Regions from separate parts of the Homo sapiens genome. Here region 2 is linked to region 1. Evidence: fine-mapped expression QTL. Tissue or cell type: whole blood. Region 1 holds a variant in brackets; the other region holds the start of a gene. All regions are shown on one strand. Distances are between the middles of the regions.

What was found. PIP is the estimated chance that this variant, and not a neighbour inherited with it, causes the effect.
Region 2: ENTR1 starts here. The variant in region 1 is fine-mapped to the expression of ENTR1 in whole blood (TOPMed, PIP above 0.99).

The regions. Positions count from the first base shown.
Region 1 is chr9:136,357,301-136,363,821 of GRCh38, reverse strand. GPSM1 (G protein signaling modulator 1) reads right to left here. Exons shown (of 14, transcript NM_001145638.3): 14 at 4,221-5,808. The coding sequence ends at 5,602. It overlaps DNLZ (DNL-type zinc finger), which reads left to right and starts at 78. Exons shown (of 3, transcript NM_001080849.3): 1 at 78-335; 2 at 694-833; 3 at 1,642-4,339. The coding sequence starts at 108. The coding sequence ends at 1,810. LOC124902309 (a long non-coding RNA gene) reads right to left here and starts at 453. Exons shown (of 2, transcript XR_007061863.1): 1 at 370-453. RefSeq lists silencers at 1-342, 443-722. The variant C/G (reference allele first, on the strand shown) is at 2,253.
Region 2 is chr9:136,408,002-136,414,584 of GRCh38, reverse strand. It overlaps ENTR1 (endosome associated trafficking regulator 1), which reads left to right and starts at 3,971. Exons shown (of 10, transcript NM_001039707.2): 1 at 3,971-4,257; 2 at 4,346-4,495; 3 at 5,518-5,586. The coding sequence starts at 4,188. It overlaps PMPCA (peptidase, mitochondrial processing subunit alpha), which reads right to left and starts at 3,927. Exons shown (of 13, transcript NM_015160.3): 1 at 3,846-3,927; 2 at 2,386-2,588; 3 at 2,016-2,095; 4 at 1,693-1,775; 5 at 1-32. The coding sequence starts at 3,916. RefSeq lists enhancers at 3,689-3,738, 3,769-3,858, 4,709-4,868 and silencers at 4,069-4,158, 4,299-4,348.

The DNA of each region.
Region 1 (6,521 bases):
CCCGACCCGGAAGACGGAAGCCCAAGAACGCCGCTTCCGCCCGGCGCCCACTTCCAAGATGGCGGCGGGGCGGGGCCGGGGCAGGGCGGACGGAGCCGGCGAGCGGGATGCTGCGGACTGCGCTGCGCGGCGCGCCGAGGTTGCTGAGTCGCGTGCAGCCCCGGGCGCCCTGCCTGAGGCGGCTGTGGGGCCGCGGGGCCCGTCCAGAGGTCGCGGGGAGGCGGCGGGCCTGGGCCTGGGGCTGGCGGCGCTCAAGCTCCGAGCAGGGGCCGGGGCCCGCGGCGGCTCTGGGGCGCGTGGAGGCGGCGCACTACCAGCTCGTCTACACCTGCAAGGTAGGCGCGCGGCGGGACGGAACCGGGGACAGACCCGTATCTGACGCTACACGGCCTGCGGGGAGAAGCGGCCCGCCGGGGATCCGGGAGGCGGCGTGGTCAAGTCACAGGAAGGAGTGGAGCCACCCCTTGGGGCTTCTGGGAGGGAGCGGAGGCGGACCATGAGGAGGGGTGGAGCCGTCCCTGGGGCGGGGCCTTCCCGGGAGAGGGCGAGGTTGGGGGTGGGTGGAGCTATCCCTCGGGGGCGGGGCCTTCTCTGGAGAGGGTGAGGTGGCTGGAGCTACCCCTAGAGGGGCGGGTCTTCCCGGGAGGGGCGTGGCGGCCCTCACAGCCTCACCAGCTACCCTGTCCCAGCCAGGTCTGCGGGACTAGGTCCTCCAAGCGCATCTCCAAGCTGGCCTATCACCAAGGCGTGGTCATTGTGACCTGCCCCGGCTGCCAGAACCACCATATCATCGCTGACAACCTGGGCTGGTTCTCGGACCTGAATGGGAAGAGGTGAGGCCTGTACCCCAGGGCTGGGCCAGAAGGCCACCCAGAAGTACCCTGGCCTCCCTGGGGGAACCTTGCCCTAGTGTTGAGGTTTATAGATCTCACCTGGGAAATCCAGCCACCTTATCAATACAAGACACACAGTTAAATGAGAATTTCCTATAAAGCCCAGATAGCTTTTGAGTTTAAGTATGCCCCAAGTAGGGGGTGCGTTTTTATTTGTTAAATTTTGCCAGCCCTGTGGCCCTGCCTCCCTGCCTCTGCCTGCCCTCTGCCATCACTGGCAGCCTTGTCCCTCTCTAGCGTGGAACTTTTTTGCCCTCTGCCATCTTGGGGTGGCTGGCCCACAGCAAGGCTTGGGGTGTGGACCAGGAGGTGTGGCCTGGGCCCTGGCTGCTGGGAGAGCAGTGGAGGTGGTGCCGGGAGCCTGGTCCGGGCCTTGCCTGGCCGGGAGGTCCTGGGCAGGACAGTAACAGCGACAGCAGGTCTGAGACCAGCATGCCAGGTGCTTGGTGGTACCTGGCCCTTGGAGCTGGGACTGTCCTCCCATCAGACCCGGGGCTGCAGATTCTTCCCTCTGGCACATAGGGGGCAGGAGCAGGAGACTGGGTTCCTGAGGCGGCGCATACCGGCAGAGACACAGGGCTGGTGAGGGCACACAGGCCAGCGTCTGAAGTGCCCGTGTGGCCTGATGCCACAGGAGTGCTGGGCCTGGTGCTTGCAGCTCTGGCCTGGCCATGGGGCGCCCTGAGGGGACTGAAGTGCAGGGCGGCTGGGGGGCCCTGAAGAGCCATGTTGCCTCCCTGCCCCCCAGAAATATCGAAGAGATCCTGACGGCCAGAGGCGAGCAGGTGCACCGTGTGGCGGGCGAGGGGGCCCTGGAACTGGTTCTGGAGGCTGCAGGGGCCCCCACATCCACTGCAGCTCCGGAAGCGGGTGAGGATGAGGGTCCCCCCAGCCCTGGCAAGACGGAGCCGAGCTGACTCCTGCGCTCCCCGGCACTGTGGGACTTCGGCCTTCCAGAAGGAGGTTTTGGCCCTGGGCCTCTCTGGACGTGGCCTGTTTTCTATCAATAAACAGACATTACTTCCAGATGCTGGGGCCTGTGGCCCTCGTGGCCTTTCTTTTTCTGGAGTTAGAACGATTGCTCTGAATCCCTGGTGCTGCTGGGTGGGACATAGGAGCCGCAGGACCTCTCGCCTCACCACAGTTCCTTCTACACAGAGTCACCCAGCTCTTGCCCACAGAGGCCACAGTCGCGTGGAAAGGGGGCTGGATGTGGCGTCAGAGCCCTTCCTGGCTGTCGCTGCGTGACTTTGAGCAGGTCACCACCCCTGTGAGCCTCAGCCTTCCTCTGCAAGGCCCTTGCCGCCCCCCTGGCCAGCTCTGGCGGCCTCCCTTCCGTGAGCCAGTGCAGACCTGAGC[C/G]CTGGTCCTCGGCCGCCGGCCGTCGGCGAAACAGTGAGCAAACCAGGCTGCCTGCTGGCCCAGGCAGGACGAGCAGCTATGGCGTGGCCGTGTGTTAGGAGCTCCAGACCCCTCCCGGGGGAGCCACCTGGGCCTCCTTCCCTCGGTGGACAGCGCTCTGGACGTCCCCAGGGCCCTCCGAGGTGTGTGGGGTTTGTCTCCCAGCCTTGTCTGTGCGCAGGATGTTCCCGTGTTTATGAAAGCGAGCAAACACAGCAGCCTGTTTATTTGCAGAAGCGTTCTGGGCAGCGTAACCTTCAGCATTCATCACCCGCCACACTCCGGCAGGGAAGAGAATGGGGCGAGGTGGGAGGTGGAGGCAGGACTGAGCACGACAGGGACCCAGTGCGGCCCCTCCCAGCGGGACACGGCCAGGACTGCCAGCTCACATCCGGCCCGTGGGAGGCCGGGGCGCGGCGGCATCGTTCCCAGTGTGCTTGTGGCGTGGGCTTTGCCTCGATTACCCCCTGTCCTTCTTTCAGCCAACAACCCTCTATTATTCCCACCCAGAGCCTTCTGTGCCATTTGTGGAAACTGTCCTCTTCTCGGCTGAGCCACCGGCACCCAGGCCTGCTCCTCCATGGAGGCACTGGCTGGGGGTCTCTTGGGGGCTTGGAAGTGCAGTGGGGCTGGGCTTGGCTTGGCTGCCTCACTGCCTCCAGAGGGCCTGGACCAGCATGTGGGGAGGTCCAGGGAGCCGTCTGGACCTGGAAGTGCAGAATTAGAGCAAGGAGAGCCGCTTGGGCCAACCCCTCCTCTTACGGATGGGGAGATGGCGGCTGGTAGTTGGGATGTGGACGTTACCATGTCTTTTCTGTCTGATGCCAGCACCTCTGGGCCCAGGCTGGCCCTGGAGGGAAATCCTTCCCAAGGCTGGCACGTTCCTAGAGAAGACCTATGGCTACCCCCCGCGTGCCAGAAGCATCCCGCCAGCTCCTGCCTGAGGCCCCCTGGACCCTGTCTCCCTCCGCCCTTCCCTCCCCGCAGCCCCAATCCCACAGCCAGGTTTCTGCAAGGGGCTTTGCCATCCTAATCTCCTGCCACTCTACACCCCCCCGCCCCAGGACATCCCTGCCTCCCGGGCACGGTTGCTGGCCTGGGCATCCCTCGTCACAGCGTCTCTCCAAGCAGGTTCCTCGGCCGCACCTTCAGAGGCTGTCCCAGCCAGTAGCGTGGGCGGCACTGCTGCGCTTCCCTGGCTGTGCGCGGTCCTGGGCCCTGCACGGTTACTTGGACCCTGTGTGCGTGTACCACCACACGCAAGCTGGCTGGGACCCTGGACCTGGAGTACACGTTGATTCTGGTTCCCAAGGCCCCTTCTGGGGTGGAGGAGGCAACGGAGTCAACCAGCACAGAGGCTGTGGCTGCCAACATGGCCAGGTGGGCTGTGGCGAGGGGCAGCAGGACTGCCCGGCGCACCTGTGTGTCCCCTGACGGGGGCCCCGTGGGGGTGCCACCCACCACAAGCAGCGCCCAGACAAGCCCCAAGACTGCAGATCTGCCGTCGGCTCCTCCACTGTGGCTCAGTGTCCAGACCCTGAGCCCAGCCGGATCAGACTCCAGGAAAGGACCTCCCTCCCCCGGGTGCTGGGTGGGCGGCAGCAGGCTGGGTCCTCAGGGGGTCGTGGGGCTGACCTGGGGGCTGCTGCTTCTGGGGGCTGGTCCCGGCCACGTGAGTGTCAGCTCAGAGCATGCTCTGTTTCCCTAGGGGCTGGGAGCGTGAGGAGGTAGGGGTGCAGGAATCAGTGGTGACAGCAGGCAGCCACTTCACCCCTCTGTGCCCCAGCTCCCCCGTGGTTAAATGCAGTGGGAACTCCATCTCTCTGAGGTCTCAGAGGGCCCAGACAGTGGGTATCTGTGGACACTTTGCACAGTGCAGCCTCTTACCGGGTTAGGCCCCCACCCGGGACTAAGCCCATACGGACCACACTCACTTGGCCGACTTTATTTTTCAGGAAAAACAGAAAAACAAATGTACCTCTTGGGTTGGAAAGGACCCATTGACAACATGGCACAGACGTGAGCAATAAATACGCACATACATTCAAGTATGCGGGGGGGCGCTACGTCCTGGAGACCCTGTGTTCGGGCACCTGTCCCTGCTCTCGGGTGCGGCCCTGCCCCTCCAGAAGCAGGTCACCTCACCAGGCCCAGATCTGCCTCTCCATCCTAGCCTGAGAGTGGGGCCTAGAGGCACCCTCCTAGATGGAACTGCCAGCCCTGGGGGCTGTGGGGCCATGGTAGGGCCCTTGGCAGTCTTGGGAGGTGCCAAGGCTGGGTCTGGACAGGAGGAGGCAACCTCAGGCCCCTGGGGCCCATCTCAGGCTCCAGCAGGTCCTGCCAGTCCTAGGATCCCGAACTTGGTGCCCTGTGAGCCCCCTCCCCATGGAGAGAGCAGTGATGTCATCTCCCCCAGCTGGTGGGAGGAGGGGGGTTCTCATATGGGGGGTCTGCAGGGTTGAGCTGAGTGAAGCCTCCCCAGCTTCCACTGACCACCCCCCCACTTGGGTGAGGGTCACAGAGCCTGGTGCTACCTCCCACCCTGACTGGGCACTGCTCTTGCTGCCAGTAAGCATCCCTAGGACCAGGCCCTGCCCTTTTTCCTGGCTTGGGGTTTTGGAATGTCGAAGTTCATGCCCAGCCATTCCCTCTGCTTTAGAGATAGGCCCGGCTCCTGTCGAGGCCCCTGCAGGGCCCTGGGACTCGGCGGGGGGCACCTCAGGGCTGCCACTGCAGCCTGGTCTGCCATGCGTGGTCTGGGGGGCCTTCTGTGGTTGCTGACCTCTGGCCGGGGAGTGGGGAGACAGGCTTGGAGGGAGCCCTGCCCCAGGACGAAGCTGGAGGGGTGGAGCATGCCTGTCACACGGCCATCCCAAGACCAGCTCTGGGGGGACAGAACATGGCCCTGTCCTTGGTGGCCCCAAGAGGCGGCTCAGAGACACCTTTGGGGAGGGTGGGGGAGACAGCAGGGTTTCACATTTGGCAGGGCAGGGCAGAACGGGAAGGGCTTGGGGGAGAGGATGCGGGAGTCTGACAGCACCAGGTCGGGGCCGACATGCCGAAGGCCCCGTCCGGCCTGCGGCAGGGGCAGAAGGGAGGAAGCTGAGGGCCATGGGGGCCAGCCCGGGATGGAAGCACGCCCTCCCACCACGGGCAGCTTGGCCTGAGCCTGTCGCCCTGGGTCGGGGAGGCCGTGGGGCTGCATGCCCAGTGCCTGTCCTCGGCAATGGCCTCGGGAGGACGTGGCTGTGACTGTGAGACCGGCGTCCAGGAGTGGGGGCAGGGTGGGCCTGGCGGTGGGCACAGGGCCTTAGCTCGCACCAGGCTGGCACTGCTGCTGGGGCTCGGGCGGGCCGCCTGCCCCCTGCTCCGGGCCCCCGGCGAGGTCCACCCGCTGCTCGTCCATGCGCTTAGCCTGCACCCTCTGAATGAGGCTGAAGAAGTCCTCGTCCGGCATGGTAGGGCCCCGGGGCAGTACGTCAGGTGGCGGGCAGCGCTGGTCATCGATCCTGGAGGACTGGGTGGACACAGTGCAGTTGGCGGCCTCACCCCCCCAGCCCCAGTGGTCCGGGGCTGGTCAGCAGCGGTGGTTCCAGAGGCCAGCGTGCACTGTTCACGGGCTTCCCCCTGTCCACCCAGGAAATTGGTTCTGGGGCCTGCCTCGCTCTGGGGTCTTGTGCTGGGAGCCCGGGCCCTGAGCGCAGTCTTCTGGTGGCCCCGCCACCAACCCGCAGGAGCCCAGGGCAGGCCCGCCCAGGAAAAGCAGGTCCAGCGATTCCCACTGGGCATGGGTGTGCCAGGCCCAGGAGACAGTGGCTAGGGCGGCGTTGGATGCCTGCTCCCCACATCTGCTGATCCCCAGGGACGGGCATGCGTGGCCGTCCCTCTGCCCAGCCCTGGAAACCAGCACAGCCTGGGACTGACCCTGGCAGGCCTGAGGTCTCAGCTTCCAGAGCCCGAAGTGTGGCGCCCCCCAGGGCTTCCCCTTGTGTCAGGTGGCTGACCCCGTGGGCCTCGCCTGCTCCAGTGTGCAGGCCAGGGGGCCAAGGGGTTGTCTGGGCTTCTCTGAAGCGCCTGGAGCAGGAGGGACGGGAGCTGGCGCAGGCATGCGTGTGGATGGGGGACTCTGGGCCTCTTGGGTGGGGCTGGTTTGGAGGTGGCTGGTCGGACGCCTGGCCCCGGGCCGAGGTTTCCTCTCTGCTGTGGGGAGGACGGCAGACCTGGAAACGT
Region 2 (6,583 bases), 51 kb before region 1:
TATCAGCAGACACAGCATACATGGTGGTGTCTCTGGAAGAAAACACAAGCCCATAATGCCAGGCCCTGAACTCACACTCTGCTTAACAGCCAGGGGACGCTCGGGCTTTGCGTGCCAGGTGGACAATGCCAGGCCCTGAGCTCACACTCTGCTCAACAGCCAGGGGACACTTGGGCTTTGCATGCCAGGGGCACCTACCTTTTGTTGGGGCCCAGCAGACATTTCAGGGACGCTTGGGCTTTGCGTGCCAGGGGACACCTCCTACCCTTCATCGGGGAACAGCAGACACTTTTCCCCTTTCTCTTTTCCTGTCTTACAGTGTGAATGCTTGGTAGGCAGGACTCACAGCTACACACAGCTTGAGTCAAAATGGAGCCACTTCTGATACAGATTTTTGTAACTATACTCTCTCTCAAAAGGTGAAGTGTTTCATCCCAGCCTCCTGTTGACTGAACGAACCCACTGGTGAGTGTGGAAACATGCCCGGCCTTGGCTGGCTTGGGGGACAGCAATGGCTGGCTCGTATGGAGCTTGTCTCACTGTAACATCTGTTCCCGGCATGAGGCACTGCACAGTCAGAAGTGCACAGAGCTGGCCCATGGGACAGGCACGAAATCATGGGGTGCTCTGAGATCAAGTGTGATCAAGGGAGACCATGCAGAGCAGACGCAACAGCCACGAAGAAGAGGGAGCTTGGGAGGCAGGACGCAGTCACCAGTGCCTCTGAAGAGGGGACTTGGCTGGACCTTCACCCTGAAGAGGAGCCATTCTCAGTGACTTTGGCTCTCCACATGGGGAGAATGGCAAGAACAAAAGCCTGAGCTGAGGGCGAGGGGGGCTGGGTCTGAGTCAGGACACCAGCCACCTGGCCAGAGAAAGGAGTTCATCTGGGATGAGTGAGATTCGAGGCAAGAGTCGGAGAATCAAACACACCAGGCAGGAACCTGGCAGGGGCAGCTGGGAGTCAGGGGGTATTAAGAGGCCTTGTTTTAGAACATGAATATGTTACCTCCAAGCTAACTTTAATTCTTAGCATTTAATGTGTCTTTTATGTGTAATTTTTTTAGCATTCAAACTTAAATCAACAATTTTAAAAATCTGTGATCTATATTCACCCATCTCACATTGCCCAGTGCTTTCTGAACAAGCTCCACACCTGGCATGCAAAGACCACTGCACTGTGCTCGAGGCAACACTGCCCCCTCCCTCCACCAAGCAGCCGGCACCTCCCTGGCTCGGTGCCTTTTGCCCCTGCTGTCTCCTGGTCTGGAATGCCTTGTGCCCCGTGTGTCTAGCAAACTCCTTCTGGAACCAGCCCAACCCTGCATTTCCTATGATTCCTTTCCCAACTCCAGACCAAGTCAGCCACTCATCCTCCTGGCTCCTACCGCCTTTGGCTACGGGGTCCATTACGTATGCAAGGCCCTCTGCTCTATCTGGGAACAGGGCCTGCTCTACATCCCTGGCATGCAGCCAACAGCCTGGAGGAACTGACGGGGGTCAACTGAGCTCCTGGGGGCTGTGCTTCTCTGTGTAAGCGCCATCCACCCAAGTCTCCATCCAGGACAGGGCTCCTTCTCCCCGTGAATCTCCACACCTCCCGCTGGGAGGGGCTCAGAGGGAATCTGAGCAACGACAAGAACGTCAGTTCCCAAGGACCCAAAGTCAGTTTGTACACAAAAGCTGGTGTACCTTGATGTCTGGCAGTCACAGATACCCCCATGCTTTTCCAACGTAAGCAGAATTTCATCTTTGCTGTCAAATCGAGCAGTAGACTAGTAAAAATAAATAAGGAAACCTAAATAAGCAATCCAGGCTATCCCTGAAACACAATTTTTTTTTAAAATCTACTTTTGCTTTTAACACACATACAAAAATTATCTTTTAACTTAAAAGTCTTTTATTAACATTAACTTAGCAACTTGATAATTTATTAAAATAACCATTATAGACAAGAAAAATCTCAAACATCCTTCAAAAGTATAGTCTAAAAAATTACAAAACTGGGTACTGACCGAAAATGCCAATTTTTCCAAAAAGTGAGCAATTCCACTAAGGTATTTCGCTTCATATCTCGATCCTGAATTGATAAGAACTAGTAGTAAAAAGAAAATTGACAGGTTACATCAGATATTCAAAATAAGATTTAATCAAGAGAAACATTTTAAGATGTCAATATGACATGATAATCAGATTTAATTACATGAGGGTGATTGTGCTGATGGTTTCACAGGTATATGTGTAGCTCAACATTTATGAAATCGTACACTTTGTTTCCACTCAGGGTACAATTCATAATTGGCATGCTAATTACAACTAACAGTCAACTAAAGCATGTGCATGTTAAAACTGCGGGACCACCCACGACAACACAACAGTACTTACTTCCTACTGTACAAAACTGTCCAAACTTATTCTGAGATGCCACGCGAAGCCCATTATCCAATGTGGTTACTTTGGTTTCAAACTTTTCCTGTCCATCAACTGTAGCAAAAACAGGCTTGGGTACTCCAGGTAAGGGAGAAGAGAGGGGGATGTTGGGATAGGCACCACCACTACTAAACCGTCTGTACGCAGGAGGTCCAAACCTAAAACAGAGAAAGCGGCCCAGTTACAACAGGCTTGAGACAACAAACCTGTGATGACCTGTTAGGTGCGGTTAGTTATGTTTTGTCTGGGTTAAAAGTGAGCATCTGCCTTTCTACAGGACTTATTTCTACAGACTTTGGAAGACAAAGCAGAGGCTGACAACAAAGGCTCAGCCACGGGACCTGGAGCAAGCTGGTTCCGTCCTTTGGGTCTTAGTTGCTATCTCTGTAAAAACAGGGCTTATTAACAGTAACTCACTCTAAGTGCAGTTTGTACACATAAAGCACTTAACAGCTCTGCCCTCCAACAGCACCACCGAAGTCTTGGATAAAAGCCATATCCCTTATTAACCTGGTCCGAAGGCGGGGTGTGACTTGGCCTCTGTCTCCCTCTCCAAACTCATCTCTTGAACCCCCACACTCCCATAGGTCCTGGTCACACTGATTCTTGTCAATTCCTGGAACACATTTGACTCATCAACCCCAAAGCTTCTTCACCGTTCCAGGGCTTGCCCTTTGCCCATGCCTACCCCTTCTTTCATTCTTCAGCTCTTCCCTTAAATGTCACCCTGATGGAGGACTATCCCTCACCAGTCTAGTCTTTCCTGCTATTTTCTATCATGAAAGGCTGCTTGTTTACTCCAAAGCATTTACGCGACTGCCGATATTTTGTTTACGCTCCAGCCTGTATCCATCTCCTGGAGGCAGCACCTCCGCACCCCTGAAACGGCGCTCGTTGTGTGGGGAGGGGCGACGCCTGTGCTGTCGGAACAAAGTTCCAGCGTGGGGAAAGGCAGGCCCGGTCACTTGGGTGGGAGGAGCGGTGGGTACGGAAAGGGTTCTTAAACGTCAGAGATCAACGGACAGACCGCAGCAACCGAGAGCCTGGACCCTGGTGTCAGAACCCTGCGGGTCTAACAGAGCTGGGCCCCCACCGGCTCAGCCTCCTGAAGGAGCACGCGGTAGGTGAAGCGCGGGGGCAAATATGAGGCATGGCCTCGGAGAAGGCCCGTCGACCCGGGAAGTGAGGGGGGGAGAGGACCCAGCAGCCGGGGAGAGGAGAGACAGATGGGACTGCGTCCCCGGGCTCGAGGCGCAAAGCAAGGCAGGGCCCCCGTCGCCTCGGGGACACCAGTGTCCCGAAGTGCGAGCCCGTCCCACGGGCGCCATGTCACCTGTAGAAACCGAAGACGGAGCGTCCAGAAAGACTCGAGCCGCCCCCGCCCCAGGCCGAAGCCTGGTTCGCCTTTGGCTCACCTCAGCCGCGAACAGCCCCAAGAACCCGAGCCCCGCAGCAACCGCGTCGCCGCCAGCACCACAGCCGCCATCTTGCGTCTCCGCCCCGCTTCAGTCGTCACTTCCGCTTCCGCCCACGGCTTCCCCTCCCCCTCGCCGACGGCCCAAGGCGTTCAGGCACGCGCTTTCGGTGCTCGGAGCGGAAGCAGCGGCGAGAGGCTCGGAGGCGCGGGGGCGGCCGAGCGGCGGGCGACGGGGGCGGGCGACGGGGGCGGGCGACGCGGGCCGCGGCACGGGCGGAGCCGGGGCCATGGAGCCGCCGCTGCCGGGCTAGGCAGGTCGTGCCCCGCCGGGCCGGCGGCGATGTCGGGCTACCAGCGCCGCCCGGGCGCCACCCCGCTGTCCCGAGCCCGGAGCCTCGCCATTCCCGACGGTGAGCGGGGCAGGGGCCGAGTCCAGCGGTCCAGGTGGGCGGCGGCCGCCCCGGCACGCAGTAAAGTCGCTGTTGTCGTTGCTTCCAGCTCCAGCGTTCTATGAGCGCCGGTCTTGTCTCCCCCAGCTAAATTGTGAGCGCCCCCATGGCAGGGACCTGGACTCCCCCTTCTTCGGCATTCGGCCGGCCTTTATGTGCTATGTGCCCAGCCCGGTGCTGGCTTCCGTGGGAGACACAGGTGAGAGACGAGGGCGCCGGCCCCGGGGACGCTTCCAGTTCCCGCGCCACGTGTGGCACCTCCGCTGCAGCACGAGCTCGTCCATTGACCCATCAATGTGCAGAGCGCTCACTGCGTGCCAGGCACTCGGAATTCAAAGGCGGAGTCCCCTGCTAGGAGCTCACAGTCTGGTTGCGGGGAGACCTCCCCCAAGACAGACAGTTCCAGTACAGGATGGTTAGTGCCCGGGGAGCACAGGAGCCCGCCCGCTTTCCTCGTGGGGCTGGAGTCGGGGTGCCTTCACCTAGTGGGCAGTGATTGGAAACCGAGCTGGAGCATTCCATCTGCCTCCACAGCCGGGCAGTGGCCAGATCTGGTTCGTCCTCGTTCTACCCAAGCAGAAGTGCTGCTGGGTGCCCGGGGTGTGCAGGAGTGTTTGTGTGGTTATGCCAGGATCTGAGGACATTCGGGGGTTGTCACAAGACAAGAGGACGCGCTTGCCCCGGCTGGGCTTCAAAATCTGCTGAGGAGCCGCTTTCAGACCACGGACACCAGGGCCAGTCTGCAAGTCAGGCCATCTCCAGGGTCACAAGTCTGGGAGCTTGTGTTTTTTTTAAAGTTTTCTCGGCTGACCGGGCGCAGTGGCTTACGCCTGTAATCCCAGCACTTTGGGAGGCCGAGGCAGGCGGATCATGAGGTCAGGAGATTGAGACCATCCTGGCTAACAGGGTGAAAACCCGTCTCTACAAAAAATACAAAAAAATTAGCCGGGCGTGGTGGCAGGTGCCTGTAGTCCCAGCTACTCGGGAGGATGAGGCAGGAGAATGGCGTGAACCCAGGAGGCGGAGCTTGCAGGGAGCCGAGATCGCACCACTGCACTCCAGCTTGGGCGACAGAGCAAGACTCCGTCTCAAAAAAAAAAAAAAAGTTCTCTAGACTGTGAGAACCACTGCAGTGGAGACTCCATGTGCAAAAGAAAAAAACCAAATGTGAGGTCATAAAGACTTCCTGCCAGCATGGTGGGTGACATTGTTTCTTTGCAGATTTTGGCTATGGAAAGGGGAAATGTTCTAAGCAGAGCCCGTCAGGAGCCCACGGGACACATTTTGGAGGTAGAGTAGTTCAGCAACCTTTTCTTCTTGTCTCCATCCAACACAGTGCCAGGCACGTGTCTGGTGGGACTGTCAATGTGACTGGCTATGTGGTGTAGCTGGAGCCCAAAAGAGCAGGTGGGGGTGGGATTTCAAGGGTTCAGTCTTGATCCTAGAGTAGCAGCGAGGTGACATCAGGGAGCGGGGAAGCCCCACCTGGGGGGCTGGGGCCACAGGAGCCAGCTTTACATGGGGCTCACAGCTGGGAGGGTCGAGTGTGGCTGCTTAAGTCCCCGGAGGGTGGGAAGGCGGTGGCAAGAGGGAGAAGGGAAAAGTGGGCGTTATTTAGGCTACCTAGGTAGGAAAGTCGGGAAGAGGGTCAGGGGGCACTGGGTCCCCAGCGTTGCAGCACCTGAGGAGCTGGTTGTTGTTGTTGTTTTTTGAGACAGAGTCTCGCTCTGTCGCCCAGGCTGGAGTACAGTGGCACGATCTCGGCTCACTGCAAGCTCCACCTCCCAGGTTCACGCCATTCTCCTGCCTCAGCCTCCCGAGTAGCTGGGACTACAGGCGCTCACCACCACGCCTGGCTAATTTTTTGTATTTTTAGTAGAGATGAGGTTTCACCGTGTTAGCCAGGATGGTCTCAGTCTCCTGACCTCGTGATCCGCCCGCCTTGACCTCCCACAGTGCTGGGGTACAGGCGTGAGCCACCACACCTGGCCACCTGAGGAGCTTTGAGAGCTCCTAGCACAGGTTGACCTCACACCAGGGAGCTGGGTGTGTGCAGTGGAGTGGCTTGGGTCGTTTTAAAGCTCCCCAGGGGAGCTTTAGTGAGCAGCACAGTGTGGGAGCAGGGGCCGAGGGGTGGAAGGAGAAGATTGCAAATGCAGACGCACGTCTGTGTCACTGCCCACCTTCAGCCACCTTCACACTTCCTAGTGCTGCCTGAGTCATGGTAGAATGACAAGCGTGGCTGCCCGATCTCACATGTGGCCATGCTCTGGAAAGACAGGTGAAC